Regions from separate parts of the Homo sapiens genome. Here region 2 is linked to region 1. Evidence: fine-mapped expression QTL. A gene starts in region 1. The other region holds a variant in brackets. All regions are shown on one strand. Distances are from middle to middle.

Region 1 (16,108 bases):
TGCCTTGGCCTCCCAAAGTGCTGGGATTACAGGCATGGACCACTGAGCCTGGCCAGGACTATTTCTTTATTGTAGTGAAATTTACGTAATGGGTAAAGGACTAAAAAATTTAATAAATGATGAAAACAACTAGATAGCCTTTGGATAAAAATAAAATGTCTTCTTTTCCTCACTTTGCATATCAAGATAAACTTCAAATGGATTAAAAAAAAATTGGCTCATGCCTGTAATCCCAGCACTTTGGAAGGCTGAGGTGGGTGGATTACCTGGGGCCAGGAGTTCAAGAGCAGCCTGGCCAACATAATGAAACCCCGTCTCTACTAAAAATACAAAAATTAGCTGGGTGTGGTGGTGCATGCCTGTAATCCCAGCTACTTGGGAGGCTGAAGCAGGAGAATCGCCTGAACCCGGGAAGTGGAGGTTGTAGTGGGCCAAGATCACACCACTGCACTCCATCCGGCCTCGGTGACAGAGCAAGACTCTGTCTCAAAAAAAAAAAAAAAAAAAAAAAGGACACTACACAGGTACCAGGAAAAAATATAAATGATTCCTTTATAACCCAAAAAAAGGAAAAGCCTTTCTGTGACTCAAGATCCAGAAGCAATACATGCTGGGAGGAAGGGAAGATGCTAATGAGTAACGAGTTTATGGGAGGATGAAAATGTTCTGCAATTAGTGGTGGTAATTGTACAACTGAGTGAATATACCAAAAATCACTGAATTGTACATTTAAAAGAGTGAATTCTATGGCATATAAATTTAACTTTTTAAAAATCTAATGAAAAAATAAAAAAAAAAACAGAAATACTGGGATTTGATTATTTTAGTAACTCAATTTGTGACCTTGAGCAAATCACTTCACTTTGCCCTTTATTTCCCCATCTGTGTGAATAGCTCATTAAAGCCTTCCTAAGAGGCCTGATATCCATAATAAATTTAAGAAGATGGATGAAAGACTATCTAATCAGATATGAATAAACATACAGCTTGTGGGGACAAAAAAGCTGATAACATAAGAAACTGAAAGGAGAGCTTCCACATAAACTATGAACCTTCTTCACAGTTCTCAATGTATAATTATCTACTAGCTATCATTCTTTAAGAGCTTATGTGTCAGTGTCAGGAACTATAAGTGCTTTTTATGTATTATCTTATTCTCACAGCACTCTCAGGTAAGCAGAAGTATTCTCATTTTAGAGATAAGAAAATAGACTATGAGAAGTTAAATGACTCGACCAATGTAAATACCTAAGTTGGGCTTCAAACTTAGATCTTTGTCACTTCAAATATCAAACCCTTCAATGCAAGCTATAGAAAGAACAATGGACTAAAAATACGAAGTCCTGGGTTTGAATGTTGTTCCTGCCACATAATGATTCTGTGATCTTAGGCAAGTCAATGAACATTTCAGTTTTCTCATTTATTAAAAGAAAATATTAACTCCTGCCCTAGTTTACCTCATAGAATATAAAAAGGGACTACTATATACATGTCAGTTAAATCACTACAGAGCTGGGCATGCTAGCATGTATCCTCAGTCCTACCTACTCAAGAGGATGAAGTGGGAAGACTGCTTGAGCCCACGAGTTTGAGGTTGTAATGCACCAAGATTATGCCTGTGAAAAGCCACTGTACTTCAGCCTGGGCAACACAGCAAGACTCTATCTCTTGCAAAAGAAAAAAAAAGGAATTTAAGAGATAATAATAGAAAAGTAGAACTTTTTTTTTTTTGAGATGGAGTTTCGCTCTTGTTGCCCTGGCTGGAGTGCAATGGCGCGATCTCGGCTCACCACAACCTCCGCCTCCCAGGTTCAAGTGATTCTCCTGCCTCAGCCTCCTGAGTAGCTGGGATTACAGGCATGTGCCACCACGCCAGCTAATTTTGTATTTTTAGGAGAGACGGTGTTTTTCTATGTTGGTCAGGCTGGTCTTGAACTCCCGACCTCAGGTGATCCACCCGCCTCGGCCTCCCAAAGTGCTGAGATTACAGGCATGAGCCACCACACCTGGCCAAAAAGTACAACTACTGATAAACCAAAAACACGTTGAATAATGAATGGCTTTAATATTTTATAGTTCCTCTAATAGTAATAGTATATACGAAAGCAGTGACTTTCAAAAGATACTTCTCTCAAGCACACCAGGGGTGCAAAGCAAATAGGGATCTCAAATCTACTTTAGTCAGAGTAGCTCTAAAAGCTTTAATAAAGAAGTTCAAAACCACTGTTTTTGGCAACATCCATTGGCATCTATTAAAAGGAAGAGTGACACCAGGATTTCAGGCCTTACCCAAGAGAAAATATTAGTGTACTGAAAAGTGAATGGATTCTAGAGACTAAACTTAGATTGAATCCTAGCTCTGCTACCTACTAGTTGGGTTACTTTTAATCTCTGGGTCTGAATGTCTTTACCCACAATGCAGGAAAATATTCACCATGCAGGTCTGTGGACACATTAAATAACATAAAGTTACCATTACAATGTCTGGCACACAGTACTTACTTTAAAAATTGCTATTATTAAATTATCCAACAATACTTTGGAATTACTAAATCTAATCTGAAAAACTGAATTATGGAAACTCATGAAAAATCACCAACTCAGAATATGCACCCTGAATATGCAAACATGCCTAAATAATGTTTAGTGAAATTGAAGGCAAGAGATCATGAAAAATAGTTAAGAGTAAGCCACACAAGAGACTATCAAGAGAACAGGACTAACTTGTGAGTAACATAGATAGAGTGGAAGAATGGAAGTTAAGAAAAAAGCAAGTAAGCATAAGGAGACATAAAGAATGCTTTGAAATTGGTGTGAGACTTCATAAATTACGACTGAAGAAAAAGACTGAATCCTAGATTATATGCAAATGAGTAAGATACACAACTCAAAATAAGTATCCCCAGATGACAATTATGACTCCAAAATACACAATGGGTCTCACAGTCAAGAGACCCAAGTCCTAGTCCTTAACGGCCCTACCGCTAAGCTTCTAGGGTACCTTAGGAATATCTGAGTCTCAGTTCCCTCATTTATTAATACATTCCCTTATAGAATACAGAACTCTCTGAATATTGGGTTCCTCAACTACATGAAGTGGTGAAATGAGACCATGTCTATGCTTTCTCTCAGCTTTATGATTCTAAGGAGAAAGAGAATCTATATTATTACTACCATGAGACTTAGATGAAGCCTGCTTATATACCAATAAAGTAGAAAAGAAAGATACGGGAAAATAAGCCATTTGAGGACCACACAAATATTCGCCAATATATGCTCTTCTCTTCACAATACTATCATAAAGAAAGGCCTTTCTAAAGAACTTTCTTTTCCAGGATAAGCAGTTAACCTAAACCAAGAAGACCAAAGCATCTTTTTAAAAAGGTAAGTTGTCCAGGCACAGTAGCTCACTCCTATAATCCCAGTACTTTGGGAAGCCAAGTGGGGCAGATCACTTAAGGCCAGGAGTTTAAGACCAGCCTGGCCAACATGGCGAAATCCCCTCTCTACTAAAAATACAAAAATTAGCCGGGCGTGGTGGTGCATGCCTGTAATCCCAGCTACTTGGGAGGCTGAGGCACAAGAATCACTTGAGCCCGGGAGGTGGAAGTTGCAGTGAGCCGAGATTGTGCCACTGCACTCTAGCCTGGGCAACAGAGTGAGACTCTGTCTCTAAAAAAAAATAAAATGAAAAGTAATAAAAAATAAAAACGATAAATTACTAACAATTATACAATCTTCTAATCAGCAGATTTTCCTTTTTTTTTCTCTCAGTATCTTCATTCAGTTCTTCAATCTTCAGAGAACTTGTTTCTCCAAGATGAGAAGCTGAGCTCTAATTAAGCTTATCTAAGGAATGTATAATTATTAAAAATCTGATTTTCTTATGTATTTGTATAGAAGGGTGCTGGTATACTGAAAAATCAAATTTATTTTAAGAAAGGCAGCAACTAAGATATTTAACAACAATTAATGTTACATTAATATTAAACTCCAGGTTAGTTTTCCCAAATAATGTTATGGGTCAGTTTCCAAATTCTCTTTATTCATGTTATAGTCCAACTTTTCTGTCTTCCAAAGCCAAAACAATCTTCACTTTACCTTCTATGTAGCCTTCTACCTCTATTGTGCGTCTATCTCTCTATCTCCTCCTGCTAAAGTTTTCTCATTTTTCTACTGCGTATCATAGCAGGTCTCCACTCAATTCTTAGTTTCCTTCCCTGGTTTTTCCACCCATTTTTCCCATTCCTTTACCCCACTGTTTTATAGGATTCTCCTTTCTTTTCATCCCTAGGACTTACTGTCACAGTACTGCATCTCCTACTCTCGCCTCCTTTTTGATAAGTTTTTACACATATTACTTCTTCAGAACCTAAGGTTTCTCTTCTGTAGTCCTTTTTCAAAGAATATCTACCAATTCATCTCTAGAATCCCAAATATACTCTGGAGCCCTCATACCTAAGTATCTTTCCTACTCCTTTTCTCTTTACAGTCACTAATTCCCAGAATCCTGTTTGAAACTACAAATATCCCCTCAAAACCAAATGCCTATTCAATTCTCTCCACTTTCCAGCAATTACTTCTCCCATGTTCACCTCATTCTTTCTCCTCGGCCCAAGTATCCCCTAACCTGGCACAAGCCATTTAACGATCTAAAATTCCAAAACCTATCTCTTCTACATGGCTCTCCTTCCTTTCCAGCAAACTATTTCTCGAACTCCCAATGCTTCACTAATTCAAAGTCTTAGGCCAGTACGTCGCTTCCCTCAGATCTACTAGCCCAGCAAAAACTGATTGCCCAAATCTTCCTCTAAGCTTCCCAGACCTTACAACTGCAGCACTTCCATTCACCAAACCGTATTTATAGTCATCTCTCAATCTTTAGAGCCTATGGTCACTCTGTAAATTCTTCAGTTCTCTCCTTCTTCTCTCTCCCTTATCCTGTCCAGCTTCTCACTCTGTAAATTCTTCAGTCCTCTCCTTCTTCTCTCTCCCTTATCCTGTCCAGCTTCTCAGCACATTCCTACTACCCTTAACAATCTTCGTGGCTATGTTCTCCACCTTACCTTAGGCCTACTCCCTAAACTTTCTCATTCTCCCTTAAGAGACCTAATCTCACCTCTCATTCGCTGAATCTGTCTTTACACCTCTGGGAATTCTCTAGAATCGTCTGCTTCCTAGTTCTCCTCTTTCCTTCTCCAGCCCTGTCTCGAGTGTTTTCTACCCCCCTCAGCTTTTCTAGTATCTAGTTCTCACAGTGCAGATATTAGAACTCTGATAATATCTACTCCTCCCAAACCTTTCCTTAGTTGTTGGCCCAATTCCCCTCAACTTTTCTCTCAGTCATTCCCCACTTCCCTCCACCTTCCCTGGCCGATTCTCCTCCACCTTTGTCACCGTTCTACTCCCTTTTCTAAGCCTCCTTTATTGTGGAAGTGATTCTCAGATCCCTTATGTTAGTCTCTCAGCTTCCCCAACCTTTGCCTCATTCCCCTCTCCCTTCAACAACGTTATTTTTCCTCCAATTTCTATTGACTTGGCGCCTCCCCTAGTACCCCAATCTGCCTTCTACTCCATCTAAATATCTCCAGGCCGCCAACATTTTCTCCTATCAGTAGACTCCTTTCCCGTGCCTCTATGAACGCCCAGAGATACCATTCTCCAACGGCTGGGGCCTGGCCCATAGGGAGAAGGGGTATGGGTCACGTACCCCATTCGCATCTTGGCTCCGCTCTGACTGCCCCCGCTGCCGGGTAGAGGTGGGCGAGAGGGAAGGCGGCCGAGGTGCATGCTCTTTTCGAGGGCCGACATCGAGGGGAGGCTGCACGCACGTAGTCAAACAGTAGGCGAAGCTTCGTCCCACGTTGAGTGTGGCCCAACCGGTCACGACTCGCTCCCCTAACGACGCCCTGTCGCCTTTGGACAGCACCCAGCTACCCGTAGCACCGCCTACCGCCCACCGGCTCCGTAAACTCCACCCACTCGCTTCAGCGCTTCCACCGGAAGTGCGCAACAGCACTCATACAAAGGAAGCTGGGTAACAGAGTATGAGAACTCCGCAGACTCCCGGCTGGGAACCCGACGACTTTCACCGGAAGGAGGAGCGCTCTTCAGGGCAATGCACCCTGCGCAATGGAGTCCACAAAGGGCGCATCCCTATGCGCTTGCGCAGCTGGAGGCGCCCCCCAGCCAACCCCGGAGAGGTATTGTAGCAAAGCGTCCTGGGTATTGTAGTGTATTGGAGGGAAGGCGTCTTGGCGCCTTCTCTTCGCACCGTTTTCCGGAGACTGTTAGAGGAAGAGTCGCTTTTTCCTGCCTCCCAGGCTGCCCAGCGGCGCCGGTTGCCGGGGAACGCAGGCGCCGTGGGGAGGGATGGCGGGAGGATACTGCTTAGGTGCTGGAGACGGAGTTGAGCTGGTGAAGAAGAGCTCGGGCTCATCATGAAACAACGAAAAGGCCAAGGGTCTGGGGGCAGCCGTGGGCGCAAAAAAAGAGGTAACCTGAGCGATCAAAGATTGAGGAAAGCGTAATAGGAGAGCAGGGTGTAAGGAATTTTAGGGAGACCCGCACCCCCGCTGGATAAACAAGAAAAGGGACGTAAGAAGGAAGTAGCCAGGGAACCAGAAGGTTAAAAGGAAGGGCAATTGGCCCTCCAGAGAATAGAAAGGAATTAGGGGCTGGGGTAGGGGCCACAGACAGGCGATTAATGAGATGAAGGTTACCGGTAGGATGACTGTAGAGGAGAAGAACAAACAATGATGGGATTGGTTTTGATAACGAAGTGAAATGTATGTGTGTGTGTAGCTTTCGAGGTCCACAGGGACAGGAAGAAACATAAATTGGCAAAGGGATTATATCATTTGTTGTGTGATTGTGGGCAAGAATCACGTTTTATACATTACTGAATGACCAAGGATTAGTACAAAGCAGGACTCGGTAAATGTTAGTTGAATGAATGAAGTATGAAGGGCTGACTATGAGCAGGAGTTGGGAAAAATAATTGTAGAGTATAGAGCCGGGAAGAGTGGGGAATGACAGGTGTGATAGGATTGGAGTGGGGGTAAGGGCATGACGATCTCCTGAAGGACCTGAGATCATGAAAGAGTGTGCAGCAGAGAGTCCTCATCAGGTTAGCAGCTCAAGGAGACACAAGCTCACCGAGTAGGGGATGTTAGCTGCAGTGAGAACAGTCAACCTAGGAACCCAGGGCAGATCAGGAAACTTGACATTGAATCTCTACAAGACTGCCTCGAAGGGAAAAAGGACAGTGGGTGACCCTGCCTTTTTGCATTGTAGGCAGTTTAGCGAGAAAAGAAGTATTGGGAACAGTGATAGGACATTAGGCCATTGGGTTGAGGACTGAAGCTACAATCTGGGAATTACTCTTATCCAAGCTGTTTAAAGATTACTAAGGCAGTTTTGAGATACTGACTTTCCTGCCAGGAAAGATAGGAGGATCTGAGACTGAAGCATACTAGTGCTCCCTGTGTCAAAACAGTTAAGCATGTTTGGTTGATAATCGGAAAGTCAAAGTAGAAATAATATAACATAGCATAGAACAGAATACACTTTTTGCTATACCATTTCCATATGTAGAAATGTATACACAACTGTGTATAATTTTTATGTTGAAACTATCCATAAGGATTATGGTGGGTCTTTTCTCCACTATAGAGGGCAGAGGCGGTGTTTGCATTAGAAGTCCAAATAATTAGTCCTGATCTGATACATTCCATATATTTTCTTCTTTGAGGCATAACCACTCCTCAAAGAAAAGTCAAAGGAAAAAAAAGGTATAAATAATATAGGAATGGTTTCTTAAATCTCCTTTAAGTTTTCCCGAAAAGGTACTATGAATGAAAGACAATCAGGGTCATTAAAGGAAAATTTTTTAGAAAGTCATGATTAATTGCTTTGTTTACACTTTAATGTCTTTATGAAACCCAATAAATACTAAAGCCAATAAATATATGAACCCAGCACTGTGTTAAAAATAGTGGCAGAATCTGAAGATTAGATAGTCTGTGTCCTCACTGACTGTGTGATCTTGGCAGGAAAGAAAAGTTACAATTTAAGACGTTCTTCATTGAAATGCTGAGTTGTATGATATAGTCTAAATCGTTTGTGAGTGAAGGGAGTTGTTGCTGTTTTATCGTTAGTGATTTTTTTAAAAGAGAGTTAGATAAAGATTACATATCTTAAAAACCATAGATGTTGCAATAATTAAAACAACTGTACTTAGAAAAATTTCAACCATACTTAGAAAAATGTCAACTACTTCTGATATTTGTATTTTTCAAATAGTAACTCAACTAAAGAAAAGTTTATATTAGTGTGTCTTTGTTGGTATGTTCTTAACTTAGAGTAAATCAAATCAAACCTTAAATACTAATTAGTTATCAGAGTGGCTTACATGACCAGATAGATTATTCGGTGGTCTGATTTGATAGTTACTTCTCATGTATTAGAATAATGGGTAGGATAAACCTTCTTTCTAAGTGGTGATAAATTGCTGAACTTAAGACTAAAGTGTTCTGTTTGTTTTCATTCAAAAAGCATATTATATGTTTTCTATATTTAGTCTAAATTTTGACTCAGTTTTCTTGGATTCCTCTACAGGTTTAAGTGACATTTCTCCATCTACAAGCCTGCCACCTCTGGTTGAAGGCCAGCTACGCTGTTTTCTAAAACTTACTGTTAATAGAGTCATATGGAAGATTGCAAAGCCTCCCACTTGTGTACTTGTCCGAGTGAGATGGTGGGGAGAAACATCAGATGGAACCCTCTTTTGTCCCAGGGATGCATTGCAGACTGAACCAAAAGCTGTGAGAACAACTACACGTTACGCTATTCGTTGTGGTCCAAAACAGTTTACCTCTTATCTAACAGGTATGTTATTGTTTTATCATTGCACCTGCAGACGTAATACAAAGCATGTGGTTATATTGTCAGCAATAAGTGTTGTTGTGTACCTAGCATATATGGGCATTCTTAATTATTGAAGAGTCAAAGAGTTTTTATAGTAGACATTTTTCTTTGTAAATTTATTGAGTGTTACTGTGTGCCAGCAGTTTTGAAATGTATTACTTCTAATCCTTACAATAACCCTGAAAGATAGGTATTTTCTCTGTTTTATAGACAATTAAACAAGTTGGAGAGATGAAATGAATACTTTCTAAGGTCACAAAGTTGATAAATGGCTGAATTAGGATTTGAACCCACTTCTGTCTGTCACCAAAACTCATGCTCTTTTCACTACACCATGCTTTTTTAGGTAATAACTGTAGTCTCAACTCTGGGGTTTACATTATACTCAAGGAAAGAGGATATAGATGTAAAATTTACCAATAGTACAAGATAATACATACTAAATGCTAAATGAATGGTTTAGTGAGTTAGTATTACAGATGTTCAGAAATGGAAAGCATCCCTCTGTAGGGAACCAGAAGCCAAGATGTCTTCATTTTTGTACAAGAAAAGTATTCTGAGTGTACTATGTTACTTCTTTATTCAGGTCAAGCTTTCACATAAATACATTTTGGATGATGGGGTTATTTATCAAGTCAATTCAGTTCAAGTCAATAAAATTCGAGCATTTATCATGTAAACATGGTTGGGCTCAGAATATTGGAGAGCCAGGGGTGAGTTAAGATTAACTTGTCCTTGAGTAACTTACATTCTCTCGAGAAAAAATTTTTGAAACATCAACATGTAAAGAACAAATGCTGTAATTCAGTCATTCAAAAAATATGTTTAGCACATACTACACATTGTTTTAGGCACCATGGGGTTTACAAAAAATCCAAAAAATTAATAAGAATGATCCCGAACTCTAACTTCACAAAAAAGTTTAGTTATTAATAGTAGGTTAAAAGCAGTAAGTGCGATTAAAAGATATAAATAATCTTGGTACTGTAAGCTTAAAAATTAAATCCTCAGGTAGTATTTTTATATAATATAACAAATGAGGAGTGATTAGAAATTCAATAAGAGAGAAGGTATTTATTAACATGGTAATCAACAGGTCAGACATTTATTTGAACATCTTATGGTATATTGGTGCATTGGACTTGGCATCCGAACATTTACATTGGTGTTACCAACTACATGATTTTAGGAAAGTCTCTTCCCATATCTGATTCCTGTTTCCCCATCTGTAAAATGGGATCATATAGTTGCCCTTCCATTTTCTAGATATTTGCACAAAGAAGCAACCCGGTTGAACGGGTTGACATCTAGACAGTCTAGAGTTTGAACTCTGGCTTCAGGACTAGATTGTTAGGTGATGCTGAGAGGTTCCTTAGCATCTCAGGGCCCCAGTTTCCTATTAGTTAGTTGGGAAAAATAGCACTTACCTGTCAGGAATTATTGTGAATACTAAATGAAAAAAATGTTTGTAAAGTGATCGGTCTAGTAGCTGACACATTGTAGGTACAAGTCTTATAAAAATATTAAGACTCAGGCAGCGTGTACAGAGATTTGAGATGTATTCCCTGCCCAAAAGGAACTTAAAGATTAGTTGAAAACAAAACTGACATACATGAAACAGTATTGAGCAATGCCAGACAGTATATAATTAAATGTCTGATTACTTGACACATATAGTAATATCATATGAATATTCTAGGAAGTTAATAAGGGCTAATCTTATGTTATTAAGAAGCCAGAATCCTGCTTCTACTCTATGCTCTTGCTGTTTGACTTTGAGCAAGCCATTTCATCTTCTTGGGCCTTAATTTTCCCACCAGTAAATTGAAAGAGTTAAAACATCAAATGTGCCAGCACCCAAATTTCATAATTCTAGTTAAGAAAGAAGGCCATGGAAAAGGTAGAATTTCAATAGGAGACACATGAGGTGAACCTTATAAGTGACAGTCCAACTGTAGACATGACATGGTTTTTTTTTTTTTTTTTTTAAGACGGAGTCTCACTCTGTTGCCCAGGCTGGAGTGCAGTGGCGCAATCTTGGCTCACTGCAAGCTCCGCCTCCCACTTCCTGGGTTCACGCCATTCTCCTGCCTCAGCCTCCTGAGTAGCTGGGACTACAGGTGCCCGCCACGACACCCAGCTAATTTTTTATATTTTTAGTAGAGATGGGGTTTCACCGTGTTAGCCAGGATGGTCTCAATCTCCTGATCTCACGATCTGCTCGCCTCAGCCTCCCAAAGTGCTGGGATTACAGGTGTGAGCCACCGCACCCGGCCGACATGATGTGTTTTTTAGAAAATGAAGCGATAAGAGGCTGAACGTGGTGGCTCACGCCTGTAATCCCAATACTTTGGTGGCTGAGGCAGGAAGATCACTTGAGGCCAAGAGTTCAAGACCAGCCTGGGTAAAACCCTGTTTCTACAAAAAAATTAGATTCCACATGCATAGCAAGACCCTGTTTCTACAAAAAAAAATTTTTTTAATTAGCTGGGCATGGTGGTGCACACCTGTAGTCCCAGCTACTTGGGAGGCTGAGGTGAGAGAAATCACTTGAGCCCAGGAAGTCGAGGCTGCAGTGAGCCATGTTCATGCCGCTGTACTCCAGCCTGGGTGACAGAGTGAGACCCTGTTTCTAAAAAAGAAAGAAAATGACAGAAAATGAAGAGATAAGACATCAAATATTAGTTCACAAAAGTATGTGCTCTAACCAAAAACTTGGAAAAAGTATGCTATTTCTTAAGCTGTGTGGTAGGTATTCGCATTATTATTATTTTATTTACTCTTTTGTGTACATATTTCACTTAATACAAAATGCAAAAAGTAAACTAATTAATATGTTGTCACATATTAGCATGAACCATATTTTTTTCTCAAGCCATTTTTATTACACTTAAGGTATTAAGACAAGTGCAAAATAACCTTGTAATTAGGATACTGTATCAGTCAAAAAAGGAGAAGTCACTATTGCATGAAGAGATTTACAAATGAGTGAAATATATAGGCTGTGCCAGAATTAACATTTGAAATGAGATGGGGTTGCTCTTTTTTTCTAGGCTGGAGAGAGGTAGTAAGAACGATTATATGAGTTCCTCAGATAAAAATAACATATAAAAAAAGAAGAGGAAATGTATCACATTTTACAATTTTTGAAATACTTTCAAGTCTATCATCTTATTTGATGTTTAAAATCATTTTATTTATTTCTTCGTATCTATTTTATTTTATTTTATTTTTGAGAAAAGGTCTCTCTCAGACAGCCGGGCTGGAGTGCAGCGATGCAAACACAGTTCACTGTAGCCTCAACCTCCTGGGTTCAAGCAATCTTCCCACCTCAGCCTCCTGAGCAACTGGGAATATAAGCACATGCCACGACACTCACCTAATTTTTGTATTTTTTGTGGAGATGAGGTCTCATTGTTGTTCCCCAGGCTGGTGTCAAACTTCCATACCCAAGCAATCCTCCTGCCTTGGCCTCCCAAAGTGCTGGGATTACAGGTGAGCCACCATGCCTGGCCACTTTCTTCATATCTATTTTACCTTATTCTAAACAGAAGTTAAGGCAATTGCAAAAACATGTTAAGTACAGATTTCTGTTTAACTAATGAGAAAACCTTTACATTTTAAATCTTCATAACTTTTTGTTTACAGAAAGTGAAAATACAGTAGGAGAAATAAGATGAAGCCTCTGCAGAGCACTAGAAAGCATGCTCTGAGGCCCTGTACATTTGCAACGGGTATTATCCTGATTTTCTGAGTGACGAATTTGAGGTTCAAAGAGTTAAAAGTAACTAACCCAAGGTTACCCTGGCACCAACCCTAAATTCAGGGAGGCACTTGACTCCGAAATTATTGATACTTCTATTGTATTATACTGCCTTAGGAAATAGAAGGATTATAGGATTCTGAGATATGCCTCATACTCTTACATCTTTCTTCCTTTACGTTTTATTCTGTTGCAGAAAATAGCAGCCATGAAAATGTTTGGAGCATGGAACTACTAGAGTAGAAACTGAGAAAATTATGGCTACACTACGTGATTTTTACCTGTCTTTGATCAGATAGGATTCAGTTAGTAGGAATGTGAAAGACAAATCGGAGTAGGAATAGTGCTGGACAGTAGGGATTCTAATTCCACAACAAGTGAAGTATAAAGGTCAGAAGTCTACTAAGAATTAAGCTTTTTGTCCTAGAAGTGATGAATAGTGTAGTGGACTTATAATTAAGTGTAGTGGACTTATAATTGGATAGAACTGAGTTTTAGCCCAGTTCTGTCAATTTAAAGCTGGGTGAACCTAGGAATATACATGACTTTGCGGAGCCTCTTTTATCCCCAAATGAAGACAGAAACACCAGTATCGTAGAGTTGTTAAGAGAATTAATGAGATGTGGAAGACCCTGGCTGTTAGTAAATAGCCAATGAATACATGTTAGTCCATTTCCCTTATTCTTCATGTGTACATCATTTTATAGTCTACAAAGCACTTTTATATCTATTTGCTCATATGACTTTCAGATAACCCCCATGAGTGGTGTATTAGTCCATTCTCATGCTGCTATAAAGACATACCTGAAACTGGGTAATTTATAAAGAAAAGATGTTTAATTGACTCACAGTTCCACATGGCTGGGGAGGCCTCAGGAAACTTACAATCATGGCAGAAGGGGAAGCAAACACGTCCTTCACATGGCAGCAGGAGAGAGAAAAATGAGTGCCCAGCAAAGCAGGAAGCCCCTTATAAAACCATCAGATCTCGTGAGAGCTAACTCACTATCATGAGAACAGGATAAGGAGAACCGCACTTGTGATTCAGTTATCTCCCCCGGTCCTTCCCATGACACATGGGGATTATGGGAATTACAATTCAAGATGAGATTTGGATGGGGACACAGCCAAACCATATCAAGTTGTTACACAGGGACTATGATATGTCAAGTAATTTGCCTAAAGTCATTTACCAACCATTCAGCAACTACCATGTGGGAAGACACTGGACTGTACTAGTGTTCTGCTTGCAGCAACCCCAGTTCCTCAGAACAGCAGTGATGCGAATATTATGAGCCTACTTTACAGACAACCATGGCTTATACAGAAATAGCTTGTGAATATTGCAGTCAGAACACAATCACAAGTCTTCTAATAATAATTCCTACATGCTTTTCACTACAGTATTAACAAATGCTGAAAACGAACCATTTTCTCAACTTTGGTTAAGAAAATACCAGAAGTTAAACTGTTCTGAAATGATCTGAGATTCCTTATGCATACATTATATTTCTTCTCCTCTGGGCATGAAGGTATTAGTCTAAGTGACCAAAGAGTATAGTTGAGAAGTTTATTTTCATTTCTCTTGGTTCCAAGTGCTCTCAATAGCTCAGTGGTCCAGATATAACCCAAGAGTATGCAATTAGATACTCCTGGGAGGCAGGGACCAACCCTTGCAGCTGTGCAAGGGCAATCCTTTGTCAATTCAAAACTAGAAATGGTGAGAATGAAAACTGAGATTTGTTGCTCTGTGTGTCAAAACCAAAGCCTGAGTTATTGGCAAATACATTTAACAATACTCTTTTAAGGGTATTTTTCTTATCAAATACTTGCTATGCTAAATATTTTTGGTCAGTTGATTTATTTTTTCCTCAGTGTGTGGTATTTGTTGTTGTTCTGTGAATCTTTATTGTTCTTTTGATCTTGGGTTCATACTCCTCTACCCCCAGAATGGTATGATAAGTGATTATTTGAAATTAAAATACTTTTTTAAGTTAAATTACTTTTTCCAGATAGTTTTGTTATCTCTGTTATAGTTTTTAAATCAGTTGTATTTTCTATCAGTTGTGTCACTTTTTTCATTAGGAAATACATGCACATGGTAAAACATTTTAAAGGTATGAAAGGTTACCAGTCTCTTGTGTATCTTTACACAAGAATATATTTACTTATAAAATAAATTCTATACTAATAAAAGCTCTTTGCATAATTTCTTTTATTTACACAGATTATATACATATACAGTCAGCACTTTTTTTTCTACTTAGCAATTCATCTTGGATGTTGTTCCATATCAGTATAGAGCTACTTATATTCTTTTTATTACTTTATTTTTCACCATTTTGCCATTATTAAAAAAACACATTTTATTAAATATTCTGGTACATAGATCAATTTACAGCTTGTAAAATAAAGTTTAAGGAGTAGGCTAGCCTTGGTGCCTCATACTTGTAATCCCAGTACTTTGGGAGGCCAAGATCAGGGGATCACTTGAGGCCAGGAGTTTGAGACCAGCCTGGGCAACACAGTGAGACCTTGTCTCTACAAAAATAAAAAAAATTACCCCAGTGTGGTGGCGTGTGCCTCTAGTCTCAGCTACTTGTGAGGCTAGGATGGGAGAATCACTTGAGTCCTGGAGTTCGAGGTTGCAGTGAACTATGATTGTGCCAGTGCACTCCAGCCTGGGCGACAGAGACCCTGTCTCAAGAAAAAAAAAAAAAAAAAAAAAGTAGAACTTCATGGAAAAAGGAATGTGCTTTTGTACTTTTTTGAGTTATTGCTGAATTGCTTTCCAGTTAACCATCCTATTAGCAACTTATTAAAGTACCTAATTCCCCTCACTTTCACCAATGCAATGGTGTTATCCAACATAAAATATTTTTTTTCAAGTTAGAAAGCTTTTCCGCATATACCCCTCTACCCACGTCTTAAAAAAGAAAATAAAAGTAAATGAAAAATATCCATGTTGTAATTGTTTCTGGTTAGATATGGCTGTGCTGGTGCTGGAAGTAATCACCAAACTTGATGGTCTTCCAATTGGTAGAGTTCAGATCAATGGACTAGCTCAACTTTCTCCAACCCATCAAATCAATGGATTTTTTACCATTGTTTCATCAACGTCTAAGAAACTTGGAGAACTCCAGGTAAAAATATATTTTAATTATTTGCTGCATAAAATAAACTTTTTGGGCAGAAATAGTTGAGTCTGTTTGTAGAATGGATAGGTCCATGGCTCCTGTATATCATGCTAATTTCCACCTCATGCCTTTGCCCATGTTTTTACCCAGTAGACCTACTTTTGTTTCCCACTTATCCAAATCCTCTTAGTGCCTTAGTGCCATCTCAAGTTCCGAGAGTCCTTCACACCTCCTACAGCATTCATTCTTCTTGTACTCTTTTTTACATTCATAAAAGCAT
Region 2 (16,108 bases), 51 kb after region 1:
TCCATAGTCTCAGAAGTTTACCTGTCTTGCACTATTCCTCAGAAAACCACAGGAAAATGTCTTCTACTGAACATTTATTTTAGGAAGAAAGAGTAAGACATATAGTCTAAGAAATAGGGGCTACAACACAGAAGAGGGATAGAAGGAGATTTCGGGTATATGTCATAGAGAGAGAGCAAACAGTCCATATTGGGGCATCCCTGACTTCAGTAGGGATGTTTCTAAGGAGTGCAGAGGTGGAGGGGAATGGAACATATATTGACCAAATTTTAAGTTCTCTCAAAGGAAATTTTCAATTCTCTTGAAGAGTTCACTCGTAAAGTAGTAATAGAGTCAAAGAAAACTAAGCAAATGAAAAGGCAGTTAATTTATACCAGGGATAATTAGTTGTATAAGAAAAAAGGTGCAATAAATTATACTGTACTTGGCTCTGATACAATATTAACCCTGAAAATTAATTTAACCAAAAAATTTGTAATATAACTAAATAGAGAAGATGGGTAAAAGGGAAATGTGTGGTTCAAGTGTAATGGTATAAGAGAGTGGGTCCTTCATTTTTCATAATAGGAAGTTCATAGATCATACAGAAAAGTGAAAAATCAGAAAATAACAGTATATTAATGTGTCACTTCAAAATATAGAGGTAAAGCCAGGCATGGGGGCTCACACCTGTAATTCCAGTATTTTGGGAGGCTATGTCAGATCGTTTAGTTCAAGACCAGCCTGGGCAACATAATGAGGCCCAGTCTCTACAAAAATTTTTAATTAGCCGAGTGTATTGGTGTGCACCTGTAATCCTAGCTACTACTAGGGAGGCTGAGACAGGAGGAACCCTTGAGCCCAGGAGTTCGAGGCTTCAGTGAGCTATGATCACACCAGTGCACTCCAGGCTGGGCAATAAAGCAATACCATGTCTCTAATACAATTTTTAAAAAGAGAAATATGAAGGTAAATACCAGAAGAAGCATCCAAGGGAATTGAAAGTGATCACCTCTGAGGAGTCAGTCAGCTACTGTTTTTTATTATAAGCCTTGTAGTCGTATTTGACTTTCAAAATAGGTATGTGTATTCTTTTATTTAAAATTATGTCTAAGAAGAAAAAGAAAAGGATAGTCATGAGAATAGGCTTATTTTATGGCCAAGGAACACAGGCAAATTTTAGCCCTTTTAGTATATCATAGACAGGTGAATAAATTCAAATAAATATTAATTTCAAAAAAGAGTAAAAAGTGGAAAAGTCTTCATAACTTTTAAGGGTGTACAAAGTGGGGAATAACAAGCAACTGGAAAAATTTTCATAACTTTAAGGGTATACAAAGGGGAGTGTATATGTGACAAATAATACAGTTATATAAAAGAACAAAAAGTAAAGTTTCAAAATGAAGTAGGTCTCAAACTCCTGGGCTGCAGAAGCTGCAGAGAGGCCATGTCGACTGGGAAGTTGTTAGTTGGATTATGGCAGTTAGGAAGCTGTTCTGACCTTTGAGAGTTACTATAGATTGATGGTTTTCAAGGAGGGGGTGATTTTTCCCCACCCCAACCCCATGAGACATTTACAGTGTCTGGAGACATTTCTCGGTTGTCACAACTGGGAACGTGCTACTGGCATCTGGTAAGTGGAGGCCAGGGATCTGAAATGCATAGGACAGTCCCAAAGATAAAGAATTGTCTGACCCAACATGTCAGCAGGGCTGAGATTGAGAAACCCTGCTGTAGCCTAAGGAAAGGTGAGGAAGGGAATGTTAACTATCTGCTTGTTCAAAATAATATAAGAACACTGTCTAATTTGAAGGTAGTGATTATATACTATTTTCTTGAGAAATTAAGGAAAAAAGTATAGCAGCTAGCTTGAAAGGAAGCAACATGGAAAGAAATAATAAATAAAATGTGTATTACAGTACCTGGCATCATGTTCATTAAGAAATCATTAAGTTCACTAACAGGTGCTTATTAAATGTTAATTACTGTAGGAGAAACAGAAATATATGCATACTTTGCCCTCAAGGAGCCTAAACTTTGAGGGAAAATATGGAATTTATACAAGGACCTGAAAGAAAGTTAGAAAGTAAAAATTGCTATCAAAAAAGGGACCAGTAATCCCAGCACTTTGGGAGGCCAAGGTGGGTGGATCACCTAAGGAGTTAGAGACCAGCCTGGCCAACATGGTGAAACCCCATCTCTAAAAATACAAAAATTAGCCAGGCATGGTGGCAGGCACCTATAATCCCAGCTACTAGGGAAGCTAAGGCAGGAGAATCACTTGAACCCAGGAGGCAGAGGTTGCAGTGAGCCTAGATCATGCCATGGCACTCCAGCCTGGGCAATAAGAGCAAAACTCCACCTCAAAAAAAAAAAAAAAAAAGATACCAGCGTGGGATTTCAAAAAAAAAAGGAGTATTTGTTCCTTCAAAATTCTGAGTTTATAGTTACTTATATGCTTATCTTCCTATTAGTTTGTAAACTGTGTTTTATTCATTTTTTGTATTCGATATAGAACTAATATCACCATAATTAGTCCTAAATACACGTATTTTTGTTTATTGGAAGTGGGTGTATCTGTGAATTTTTTGCAAAATCGATATATAATATTTAACTCATTGAATTATACCCTTTTTTCTCCCTATCAGACTATAAATAATACAAGAGTACAGATTGTGTTAGCTTAGCCACCTCTATATCTTCCAGGACCTAGCACATAATAAGTGACCAATAAATGTTTGTTGAATACATGAATGAGATCACAATCAGTGTCAGTAGTGTGTTTCTGAATACTGGTTGTTAGCATCCCAGAGGAGGGGTAGTATAATTGGGAAATATTTATTCAGTAGTCTTTTGTTTAATGTGAGTCTTTTGTTTAACATATCTCCTTCCACATTTAGAACCTCAGAAAGTTTCACTAAAGAGAGAATAGTTCAGCTGAAACTTCTATTAAAATTCTTCTGCTTTGTTTTCTTATCTCTGCAGTGCTGAATTATCCCAAGGCAATTTCTGGGATGGGCTAGGCTCTCCTCCAGATTCCCCATCTCCTGGGAGTGATGTGTATTGCATCAGTGAGCTGAATGACCCTCAGTATGACCAGAGTCTTCTGGAGAATTTATTTTATACAGCACCTGTAAGTCACTGAACCTGAAGCATTGAGAATTAGAGAACAAATGTATTAATAATATTAGTAGCTGCAGGCATGACAGCTATGCATTTTACATAACTTACCTTACTTAATTTTAATGACAACCTCAAGAGGAAAGTATTATCTTCATTTTACAGATGTTGAGACAGGCCTAGTAGGATTTGAATATTTTGTGCAAGAACATATAGCAAATAAGTATTAGAGCCAGAATTCAAATTCACATTTGCCTGAGTCCAAAGCCTATGGTTTAATTAATATATTTTATGGTTTCCTTAGAGCTTTTATAAGGAAGAGCTGATGTAGTTATACCCTCAGAACCATCCTTAACTGGTATCTGTTAAAAATATTCCAAAAACACTTCTTACTCACAGGAGACAAAACTCTTCTGGCCTGTAAGACAGGGATTCTCTTTTCTGGCAGCTCTGGTTTTTTCAAAGTTCTTTTTTCTATCAAGCCTTATGCTCTTTTCATTGGCTTAGCATCTTCTAGAATCTATACATACTATGTCCAATCCCTGTTCCACAAGTAGTTATTTATATGTGTGAAGGTTCATACTCCTGATTTTCCTTTTCTCCAGGTCAAAAAAAGATACTGAAATACAAGGTAGTTTATATCAGCCCAGTAGTAAGCCAGTGAGGGCTACCACAGTTTGGAAGAAGCAGGGAAAACTTTTACATGAGATTGTGGGGAAAAACCATAATGAAGAATAAAGGGTTTTAACTGAGATTGAAAGATAGTGTTTTGAGAAGCAGAGAAAAGATACAAAATGGGCGTAGAAAGAATGACCTGTGCAGAAAAACACATTTTTGCGCTACAAGGGACCCAATTGACTAGATGAGAATTTGTGTGGAAAAGGAGTTGATAAGGCAGGCTGGCACATTGCAGCCAATCTGTGAAAGGCTTTTCATGTCAGGTGAAGAGGAAATCACATATCACAAGAGTGTTCTAGGAATCTGTGTCTGGCAACCCTACAGTGGGGCAGACTGAAGAGGGAATAACGAGAAGCAGATAGGAAGCCACTGGGCTACGGGAAGCATGAGACAGAATGCCTGAATGAGAGTACCTGCAGTGGAATTGGACAGGAGGTGGTGGACGGGAAAGACATTAGGAACTGTTAGGATTTCATGACTTCCCACCTTCACAGTCATCACTGATACTGTGTTCCCTATAGGATAAAGAGGAAATATTTATTACACATTTATTACCCATTTTCTGTGTGCTAGGGACTTCACATCTTATCTGTCATTTATTAAATACTTGGGGGGGTTGTTTGTTTTGTGTTTTTATGGCTGAAACTAATAGAACACTAAATACTGTTTTTAATTCATTATTTTGTTTAATTCTTTTTTTTTTTTTTTTTTTTTGAGACGGAGTCTCTCATTCTGTCACCCAGTCTGGAGTGCAGAGGCATGATCTCGGCTCACCGCAACCTCCACCTCCCAGGTTCAAGCCATTCTCTTGCCTCAGCCTCCCGAGTAGCTGGGATTACAGGCACATGCCACTGCACCTGGCTAATTTTTGCATTTTTATTAGAGACAGGCCTTCACCATGTTGGCCAGGCTGGTTTTGAACTCCTGACTTCAAGTGGTCCGCGCACCTCAGCCTCCCAAAGTGCTGGGATTACAGGTGTGAGCCATCATGTCCAGCTCTGTCTTATTTAATTCTTTTACCAGCCGCATGAGATAGTATTATCTCTCTTTTACATAGCATGAAACAAAAGCTTAAAGAGGTTAAGTACAAATAATTAAGTGGCAGAACTGGAATTCTCACCGTAGTCTATCTGACAAAAAGCCTGTATGTTTTTCTACTAGACCACAGTGTGTCATCAGCCTTGAGCATGGTGTTAGAATCTGACCCTGACTGACCTCTCTAACTTCATCTCCCACTTATACCCTTTACCCACTGGAGTCTCCAGCCATACTGGAGTCTCAAGCCACTTGCCACTCCTGAAACATTTTAGCTCTTTTTTTTTTTTTTCTGTAGAGACAGGGTCTCACTATGTTGTCCAAGTTGGTCTCAAACTCCTGGCTCAAGCAATTCTCCTGCCTTGGCCTCCCAAAGGGTTGAAATTACAGGCATGAGCCACTGCACCTGGCCTTAGCTCTTGTATCTCCCTATTTTTTGCTGGTACTAATCCTTCTACTTTGAATGTTGAAATGCTCTTAGCCATCTGATAAACTTCATTCTTGAAGGAGAGGATGTGGAGAAATAGGAATGCTTTTACACTGTTAGTGGGAATGTAAAGTAGTTCAACCATTGTGGAAGGCAATGTGGCAATTCCTCAAGGATCTAGAACTAGAATTACCATTTGACCCAGCAATCCTATGACTGGGTGTATACCCAAAGGATTATAAATCATGCTACCATAAAGACACATGCACACATATGTTTATTGCGGCACTATTCACAATAGCAAAGCCTTGGAACCAACCCAAATGTCCATCAGTGATAGACTGGATTAAGAAAATGTGGCACATATACACCGTGGAATACTATGCAGCCATAAAAAAGGATGAGGTCATGTCCTTTGCAGGGACATGGATGCAGCTGGAAACCATCATTCTGAGCAAGCTATCACAAGGACAGAAAACCAAACACCGCCTGTTCTCACTCATAGGTGGGAATTGAACAATGAGTTCACTTAGACACGGGGCGGGGAACATCACACACCAGGGCCTGTAGGGTGGTTGGGGGCTGGGGGAAGGATAGCATTAGGAGGAATACCTAATGTAAATGATGAGTTGATGGGTGCCACAAACCAACATGGCACATGTATACATATGTAACAAACCTGCACGTTGTGCACATGTACCCTAGAACTTAAAGTATAATTAAAAAAAAAAAAGGAAGTAATCTTACAATCATGCTGTTCAATGTAGCTAGTAGCCACATGCCACTGCTTAAATTAGTTGACATTATATAAAATTTAAAATTTATTTTTCAGTTGCACTAGTCAATAACCATTTTTAAAAGCTGCCACTCAAAGGATAACTTAAAGGCAAAAATCTTTGTAATTTTGCCTTTTAAAAGTTGTATTGTGGTGGTGTGGTGGCTCATGCCTGTAATCCCAGCACTTCAGGAGGCCAAAGTGGGCAGATCACTTAAGGTCAGGAGTTCGAGACCAGCCTGGACAACATGGTGAAACCCTGTCTCTACTAAATATACAAAAATTAGCCAGATATGGTGGCACATTCCTTTAGTCCCAGCTACTTGGGAGACTGAGGCATGAGAATCACTGGAACCTGGGAGGCAGAGGTTGCAGTGAGCGGAGATTGCGCCACTGCACTCCAGCCTGGGCAACAGACTGAGACTCCATCTCAAAAAAAAAAAAAAAAAAGTTGTATTGCTTCCAAGAAGACATTCTTATCATGCTTATTTAAATTAATTTGTCCCCCTATCACAGATCAACACATTATACCCCCTGACATGCTGAAAAAAGGGTAATTTTAAATGATAGACTTAAAATAACTTTGGGTTTGTGTCCTGAATTTATATTATATTAGCAAGCTTTATGTCTTTTTTTAAAAATGGAACCCAGTAACTATAATGCCATCTTCTCTCTTTATTTTACATTTTGTGATGTAGAGGGCTGATCAGTCCATTGCAGTAGCTGCCTTTTCTCAAAATAAAAATGAATTGCAAGGGGCTTAGCCATTGGTTCTCTCATTAAGAAAATTTGTGACTATAGTAAACAGTTCATTTTAGCAAGATTAAAAGCAGAATGAATCATTTGTAGTATAGAATGGTGACAAAAAGTAGTCTTGGCTGGGTACGGTGGCTCATGCCTGTAATTCCAGCACTTTGGGAGGCTGAGATGGGCAGATCACTTGAGCCCAGGAGTTTAAGACCTGCCTGAGCAACATGGCCAAACTTCCTCTCTACAAAAAATACAAAAATTAGTCAGGTGTGGTGGCTCATGTCTGTAGTCCCAGCTACTTGGGAGGCTGAGGTAAGAGGATCACATGAGCCCCAGGGAGGTCAGGGTTGCAGTGAGCTGTGATTGTGCCACTGCACTCCAGTCTGGGCAACACGGTGAGACCCTGTCTCAAAAAAAAAAAAAAAAAAAATAGTCTATCCAGATGATTAGGTGACATCGTCCAAGTCATTTGGCCTCAAACTATGGTAGAAATACAGGCTTTGAAGCCCATGGAGATCAAAATCTGGCTTTACAGCTATGGATCATAAACAAGCTGCCTTACTTTTTTCAGCTCTGATTTTCTCACTTGTAAAAACTGACATAAAGGTACCTTGTCGGAA[T/G]GTGGTGAATATTAGAAATATACATGTAGCATTAAGCATAATACCAGACATATGGTCTATAGTCAATAAATAATAGTTATTATTATTGAGAATTTGAAAGAAGAATCTACCTTCCTTTATTTGCTTTGAACTGAACTTGTAGGTTATTTTTGTGAACTTCAGATTATTTTTGTATAACCAGGAGAAATATGGGATTATCTCCCTGGTGTCAGTTCTTTCTTTAAGAGAATGATGTATGTACAGAGAAGAACTTGCTTTCTTTAGAGAAATGTTTCGTAGCTACAATTCCCAAAGCAGCAGTCATTTAGTGTCTCTGTTTCTTCCTCTCCATAGAAATCTGATACCAGCATCAGTGATTTCCTCAGTGAAGAGGATGATATCGTCCCTTCTAAAAAAATAAGCCAGTCAACAGCTCTTGCCAGATCATCTAAGGTTCTGGAGTCAAGTGATCATAAGCTGAAGAAGAGGTCAGCAGGCAAGAGAAATAGGTGAGCTGCTCTGACTGTTTATTTAAAGGTAAACACAAAGGAATGTTATTTTCACAAGATCTCCCAAGGTGAAATGACCCATTTGCCCAGCACCATCAGAGTGATTAATTACAATAACTCAGTAAACATTGTAATTCTTAAAAATGTAATAATCTGAAAAGATGGCTAAATTTGTTTTCCATAGGTTTTGGGGAACAGGTGGTGTTTGATTACCTGAATAAGTTCTTTAGTGGTGATTTCTGAGATTTTGGTGCTCCCATCACCCAAGCAATATGACACTGTACCCAATTTGTAGTCTTTTTTTTTTTTTTTTTGAGACGGAGTTTCGCTCTTGTTTCCCAGACTGGAGTGCAATGGCACGATCTCAGATCACCGCAACCTCCACCTCCCAGATTGAAGCAATTCTTCTGCCTCAGCCTCCCGAGTAGCTAGGATTACAGGCATGTGCCCCCATGCCCGACTAATTTTGTATTTTTAGTAGAGACGGCGTTTCTCCATGTTGGTCAGGTTGGTCTTGAACTCCCAACCTCAGGTGATCCGCCCACCTTGGCCTCCCAAAGTGCTGGGATTACAGTTGTGAGCCACCACACCCGGCCTCCAATTAGTAGTCTTTTATCCCTCACCTTCTTCCCACTCTTGCCCTCAGTTTCCAAAGTCCATTGTATCATTCTTATGCCTTTGCATCCTCATAGCTTTGCTTCCACTTATGAGTGAGAACATATGATATTTGGTTTTCTGTTCCTGAGTTACTTCACTTAGAAAAATGGTCTCCAATTCCATCTAGGTTGCTGCAAATGCCATTATTTCATTTCCTTTTTATAGTTGAGTAGTATTCCATATATATATATATATATATATATATATATTTGAGGCCAAATGACTTAGACGATGTCACCTAATTATTTGGGTAGACTACTTTTTTTTTTTTGAGACGGGGTCTCACTATGTTGCCCAGGCTGGAGTGCAGTGGCACAATCACAGCTCACTCATATATATATATTCATATATATATATTCATATATATATATTCATATATATATATTCATATATATATATTCATATATATATATTCATATATATATATTCATATATATATATTCATATATATATATTCATATATATATATTCATATATATATATTCATATATATATTCATATATATATATTCATATATATATACACACACACGTATATATACATATACACGTATATATGTGTATATATACATATACACGTATATGTGTATATATACGTGTATATGTGTATATACACATATATACGTGTATATGTGTATATACACGTGTATATGTATATATACATACACGTGTGTATATATACACGTGTGTATATATACATATACACGTGTATATACACATATACACGTGTATATATACACACACGTATATATGTGTGTGTATATATATACGTGTGTGTGTGTATATATATACACACATATATGTATACCACAATTTCTTTATCCATTCATTGATTGATGGGCATTTAGGCTGGTTCCATATTTTTGCAATTGCAAATTGTGCTGCTATAAGCATGCAAGTACAAGTATCTTTTTCATATAGTGACTTCTTTTCCTCTGGGTAGATACCTAGAAGTAGGATTGCTGGGTCAAATGGTAGTTCTACTTTTAGTTCTTTAAGGAATGTCCACACTGTTTTCCATGGTAGTTGTACTAGTTTACATTCCCACCAGCAGTGTAATAGTGTTCCCTTTTCACCACATCCTCACCAACATTCTTTTTTTTTTTAATTTTTTATTATGGCCATTCTTGCAGGAGTAAAGTGGTATCGCATTGTGGTTTTGATTTGCATTTCCCTGATCATTAGTGATGTTGAGCATATTTTCATACGTTTGTTGGCCATTTGTATATCTTCTTTTGAGAATTGTTTATTCATGTCCTTAGACCACTTTTTGATGGGATTGTTTGATTTTTTCTTGCTAATTTGTTTGCATTCCTTATAGATTCTGGATATTAGTCCTTTGTCAGATGTATAGATTGTGAAGATTTTCTCCCATTCTGTGGGTTGTCTGTTTACTCTGCCGACTGTTTCTTTTGCTGTGCAGAAGCTTTTTAGTTTAATTAAGTCCCATCTATTTATCTTTGTTTTTGTTGCATTTGCTTTTGGGTTCTTGGATATGAAGTCTTTGTCTAAACCATGTCTAGAAGGGTTGTTCCATTGTTATCTTCTAGAATTTTTATGATTTGAGGTCTTAGATTTAAGTCCTTGATCCATCTTGAGTCGATAGTTTTATAAGGTGAGAGATGAACATCCAGTTTCATTCTTCTACATGTGGCTTGCCAATTGTCCCAGCACCATTTGTTGAATAGGGTGTCCTTTCACCACTTTATGTTTTTGTTTGCTTTGTTGAAGATCAGTTGGCTATAAGTATTTGGCTTTATTTCTGGATTCTCTATTCTGTTCCATTGGTCTATGTGTCTATTTTTATACCAATACCATGCTGTTTTGGTGACTGTGGCCTTATAGTATAGTTTGAAGTCAGGTAATGTGATGCCTCCAGATTTGTTCTTTTTGCTTAATCTTGCTTTGGCTATGTGGGCTCTTTTTTGGTTCCATATGAATTTTAACATTTTTTTTCCTAGTTCTGTGAAGAATGATGAGGGTATTTTGATGGGAATTGCACTGAATTTGTAGATTGCTTTTGGCAGTATGGTCGTTTTCATATTTTTGATTCTACCAAGATAGGTATAATTTAAATGGTTAAGGAAGAAAGCAGAATTCTAGGTTGTATGTGTACTGTGATCACAACTGTGTAGAAAATATGCATAAGGAAAGCAAATGAGAAGGAATACACAAAAGTGACAATAGTAGTTACATTAGAATAGTGGGTAACTGAAATAAGGTCTGTGTCCCTTCTAGAAAAACCTAAATTTGGAGTTTCAGTTTCTGTACTCATATGTATTGTATAATGTATGTGTGTGTATATATGTTGTGTGTGTATAAGTGTGTGTATATATATGTATGTATATATATATGTATGTATGTGTGTGTGTGTGTGTATATATCTATATAGTATTTTTAAATTTTTTTTTTACCTGGGAGCATAGATTCAAATTACCCTGAATATACACTCTCAAACCTTTAGATTATATTTTTTTTTTACATTTTTTGAGATTTCTTGTACTATAGGACCAGAATTCTGATAATAAAAGCTGTTTCCAATCCTTGATAACTTGTGAGTCAAGATACTTGGCTGGGTGTGGTTGTTCACACCTGTAATCCCAGCACTTTGGGAGGCTGAGGCAGGAGGATTGCTTGAGTCCGGGAGTTCAAGACCAGCCTGGGCAACATAGTAATATCTCATCTCTACAAAAAATACAAAAATTAGCCAAGTGTGATGACCCATGCTTGTGGTCCCAGCTACTTGGGAAGTTGAGGTGGGAGGATCATTTGAGCCCAGGAGGTCAAGGCTGCAGTAAGCCATGATCGTGCCACTGCACTCCAGCCTGGGTGACAGAGCAACACCCTGTGTCAAAAATAAAAATAAAAAAATAAAAACTTGCTGCCCTCCCTTTTTCCTCATCTTGCCTGTGCAAACTAGATTGTTTCATGTGAAGCCTGTAGCAGTATGCCTCACTGCTTGTGTGAACTCCTTTCAGAAATTTGGTTGAACAACAGATGCTCTCAGAAACTCCAGAAGATGCCCAAACGATGACACTAAGTGTGGATAGACTGGCCCTTTTGGGTAGAACACATTCAGTCAGAATCATCATCGAAACCATGGGAGTTCCTCCAGATAGTCCTCAGATGACCCCTGGCAAAAAAAGCTATGCTGGTCCACCACCTAAGGTGACTACAGCAAAAAAGCGGTATGTCTCTAACATGAGAAAGCTAAATTTGACATTTTTGGAAAGTGTGTCTGATGGTAATAATCAACAATTGCATAATACTGTGATTTGGGATGTGTTTTCATATGCATCATTTAATCTACAGAAATATATTGAATCCCTGCTATATCCCAAGAACTGTGTAAGTAAGTATGGGACTAAAGAAAATTAAGATACAGACTCTGTTCTTACATATCTTACAGTTAGCAGGAGAGAGAAACATTTAAATGGCTATCTATAACATAAAGCTTTAGGGCCCAAAATAGATGTTTTGTATTAAAATTGCTGTGGGAACACAAGAAAGGGAGCCTTTGATTCTCTCAGACAGGGTTGGTGGAAGGCTTTGAAGAAGAGGTAGGGCCTCTGAGTACTAGAGGTCCTGAAAGTAAGATTTCAAATATATGTTGGATTTATCAGACGGAAATTAGGTTTATTGTTTGGTTAGTTTTTAATCACTTTTTTTTTCTTTTTAGCACTTTCTTTGTAGAATATCACTTTCCTGTGGGCTTTTCGGAAAGCGGATTGGGAAAGACAGCTTTGATCACTGAGGTTGTTCGACTCGCCTCCAGTAAAATTACAGATGGAAGTAAGAGACACACTGGTTTTCTGCACCTTAGACATTCTGACTTTGGAAGAATTTTTGAATTCCTAATTACTCATTTGACTTTTTTTTTTTTTTTTTTTTTGACATGGAGTCTCACTCTTTCGCCCAGGCTGGAGTGTGGTGGCGCAATCTCTGCTCACTGCAGCCTCCACCTCCCGGGTTCAAGTGATTCTCCCATCTCAGCCTCCTGAGTAGCTGGGATTACAGGCGTATGCCACCACACCCAGCTAATTTTTGTATTTTTTAGTAGAGACAGGGTTTCACCATGTTGGCCAGGGTGGTCTCAAACCCCTGACCTTAAGTGATCCGCCTGCCTCGGCCTCCCAAAGTGCTGGGATTACAGGCATAAGCCATCACGCCCAGCCAATATTTTCAAGGCTGTGCAACCATCACCACAATCTAATTTTAGAACATTTTCATCCCCCCTAAAAGAAACCCCATACTTACTAGCATTCGCTTCGCATTTCCCTCTTCCCCCAGCCCTAAGCAACTGCTAATCTTTCTTTCCCTATCAATTTGTCCATTCTGGATGTCTCATATAAATGGAATCATGCAACTTGTGATTTTTGTGACTACTGTCTTTGACTTACCATAATATTTTTAAGTTTCATGTTATAGTATATATCAGTACTTCATTCCTTTCTATGGCTGAGTAATACTCCATTGCATAGATATACCACATTTCATTTATCCTTTTCTCAGTTGCTGGACATTCGTGTTATTTCCACTTCCTGGCAATTTTGCATAATGCTGCTATGTGAACATTTGTGTACGTGGTTTTGTATGGACTGTGTGCTTTCATTTCCCTTGGGTATATATCTAATGGTAGAATTGCTGGGTCATATGGTAACTTTATGTTTTAACTTTTTCAAGAACTGCCAGACTGTTTTCAACAGTGGCTGCACCATTTTCCCACTAGCAGTATATGAAGGTTCTAATTTGTCTACATCCTCGTCAACACTTGTTACTTTCCATTCTTTTTTATTCTGGTCATCCTGGTGGATGTGAAGTGACATCACATTGATTTTGATTTGCATTTTCCTGATGGCCAATCATGTCAAGCATCTTTTCATGTGCTTATTGGCCATTTATAGATCTTCTTTGGAGAAATGTCTATTCAGATCCTTTGTTCACTTTCAAATCAGGCTTTTTGTTATTGAGTTATAAGAGTTCTTTGTATATCCTAGATACAAGCCCCTTATCAGATCTATGATTTGCAAATATTTTCTCCCATTCTGTGGGTTGTCCTTTCACTCTCTAGATGGTATTGTTTACAGCACAAAAGTTTTTAATTTTTATGTACTCTAGTTTATCTGTTTTTTTTTCTTTTGTTGCTTAGGCTTTTGGTGTTGTCTTTTTTTTCTAATTTGTTTTAAATATTTCAGATACAGAAAAAGGATAATATAATAGACATTTATGTTCCTGCCACCCAAAATTACAGCCACTTTTCTAATATATTCTGAGGATAGCTTTGCCTTGGTTCTCCAGTTTGATCTATGAATAGTTAGTTCATCAGTGTTAAGTTTATTCTCTGGGAAGTAGTTTGAGAAATAAAAGATGTGGTCCTAACACTCCTACTACATAGTCAAATAACTTTTCCTTTACAGCATAGTAACACGGGATTTTTAAATTTTTACTTTGCTTTGTTTTGTTTCCTTTTTGAAATAGATAATCCATTCACATGGTTCAAAATTGAACGGTTGCATCCTTGCAGACAATCAAGATTGTTGCTTTTATATCCTTCCTTAAGCCATTATAGATAGATAGATAATGTGTGTGTGTATATATATATGTGTGTGTGTGTGTGTGTGTGTGTGTGTGTGTGTGTGTGTGTGTGTGTGTATCAGCAAATATGTTTACTCCAGGGGTGTCCAATCTTTTGGCTTCCATGGGCCACGTTGGAAGAAGAATTGTCTTGGGCCACACATAAAATACACTAACAGTAATGATAGCTGATGAGCTTAAAAAAAAAATCGCAAAAAAATCTTACAGTGTTTTAAGAAAGTTTACAAATTTGTGTTGGGCTGCATTCAAAGCCATCCTGGGCCACTTGTGGGTTGGACAAGCTTGGTTTATCCCTTCCCCTGCCTCCCATCCCCCATGTTTCTGCAAGTATTAATGCACCATACACAAGTTGAGTGTCCTTTCTTCAAAATGCTTAGAACCAGAAGTATTTAGGATTTCGAATTTTTTCAGATTTTGGAATATTTGCATATACATTAATAAGATATCTTGGGGATAGGACCCAAATCTAAACATGAAATTCATTTATGTTTCATATAGACCTTATATGCATAGCCTGAAGGTAATTTTATACAATATTTTTAATAATTTTGTGCTTGAAATAAAGTTTTCACTGCATTTTGACTGAGACCCATCACATGAGGTAGGGTATGGTATTTTCCACTCTGGCATCATATTGGCATTCAGAAAGTTTTGGATTTTGGAGCATTTTGGATTTTGAGTTTTGGGGTTAGGGCTGCCCAACCTGTACATGGTTCTGCACCTTGCCTTTAACATTATATCTTAGGAATTTTTGCATATCAGGACGTAAAGAGGAAAGAGGAAACTCACAGATGAGGAAAGAGGAAACTGAGACATAAATTAGTTAAGTAGCTTCTATGAGATCACACAGCTGGTTTATGGTAGAACTAGAATTTCAACCTAGCACCGTTTCGATTCCAAAATGTGCCTTAATCTGTATTGCTTCTTAAACATTATTGTTGTTGTTGGCCACAGTGATTGATCTTCTCTACATTTTTCTGAGAAGGATTATATAGGAAATGTGGAATAAGCATTGAGCAAAGAATTGCAAGACTGGGTTCTAGTTCTGATTATACCACACACTAATCATATGCCTTAGGCAAAATCACTTTCTTACCTGTGGGCCTCTCTTAACAATAATATGGATTAGACTAGGTATTAATCTGGATCCCTTTCAACTCTTGAAAAAAATCTTCTCTGGGACACTGTTAGCAAGTTATTTACCTGAATTTCTTCTTCACTTACTGCCTTAACTCACTTTTCAGTGGTAAAAAATAATGAGCCTAAGAAACAGAATTATATAAGAAATATAGTAACAGTGCAAGAACATACCCAAGTAGTAAGGAGAAATTGAAATAGGATTGTTTGTACATAAAGAATTTTACAGTGTTCAAAGTGCTTTTTCCTTTATTACCTCAGTTCATCCTCCCAGCACACCAATGAGGTGCAGGTGTTATCTTACTTCCCTTTCCCAGGTAGAGTAACCAGATAAACTGATCTAGTGGATGTGGGCTTCCTGGCCCCAGACCTTTTGTTCATAGTTCCTGTGCATTGATCCACATAGCAAGGTCCAGATCCTGTCCAACAGTGCCAAGAAAAGTATAGAGTCGCCAGTTAATATGGCCAGAGATGAATAGAGAGATCAGTAGGTTAAAATGGGTCATTTGAATGAATGCTAGAAATAGCAGATTCTCTTCATACATAACTGGGCCTCTTGTGAAGATTCTTCAGATTCATGATCCATTTTAACAGCCTTAGCAGTGAATGGACAGGAAGATCATTTTATAGGTGATAAATTGTTTCTGCGGTGGTAAGTAATAGTAAGTATTAGAACTGGAGCTTAAACTTATATCCTTTGATTCTGGTCTCAAATTCTTTTTATTTTATTTTATTTTATTTATTTATTTATTTATTTTTGAGACAGAGTCTCACTCTGTTGCCTAGGCTGGAGTGCAGTGGTGTGCTCTAGGCTCACTGCAAGCTCTGCTTCCCCGGTTCACGCCACT

Which allele goes with the higher level. Positions count from the first base shown, and alleles are read on the strand shown. Sizes are in standard deviations (SD) of each study's normalised expression.
For the expression in anterior cingulate cortex of the gene that starts at base 6,231 in region 1, allele T in region 2 goes with a higher level than allele G (large effect, 1.2 SD a copy in GTEx).

The links. PIP is the estimated chance that this variant, and not a neighbour inherited with it, causes the effect.
Region 2: its variant is the best candidate, but not a certain one, in a credible set for the expression of C2CD3 in anterior cingulate cortex (GTEx, PIP 0.84).

Annotation. Positions count from the first base shown.
Region 1 is chr11:74,161,125-74,177,232 of GRCh38, reverse strand. C2CD3 (C2 domain containing 3 centriole elongation regulator) reads left to right here and starts at 6,231. Exons shown (of 33, transcript NM_001286577.2): 1 at 6,231-6,495; 2 at 8,620-8,889; 3 at 15,677-15,834. The coding sequence starts at 6,441. It overlaps PPME1 (protein phosphatase methylesterase 1), which reads right to left and starts at 5,944. Exons shown (of 14, transcript NM_016147.3): 1 at 5,711-5,944. The coding sequence starts at 5,811. RefSeq lists enhancers at 5,150-6,072, 5,850-6,299, 6,073-6,996.
Region 2 is chr11:74,109,992-74,126,099 of GRCh38, reverse strand. It overlaps C2CD3 (C2 domain containing 3 centriole elongation regulator), which reads left to right. Exons shown (of 33, transcript NM_001286577.2): 8 at 2,965-3,112; 9 at 7,718-7,872; 10 at 11,507-11,716; 11 at 12,208-12,320. Among named protein-coding and RNA genes, the nearest start is that of C2CD3, 53 kb to the left of the region's middle. The variant T/G (reference allele first, on the strand shown) is at 7,385.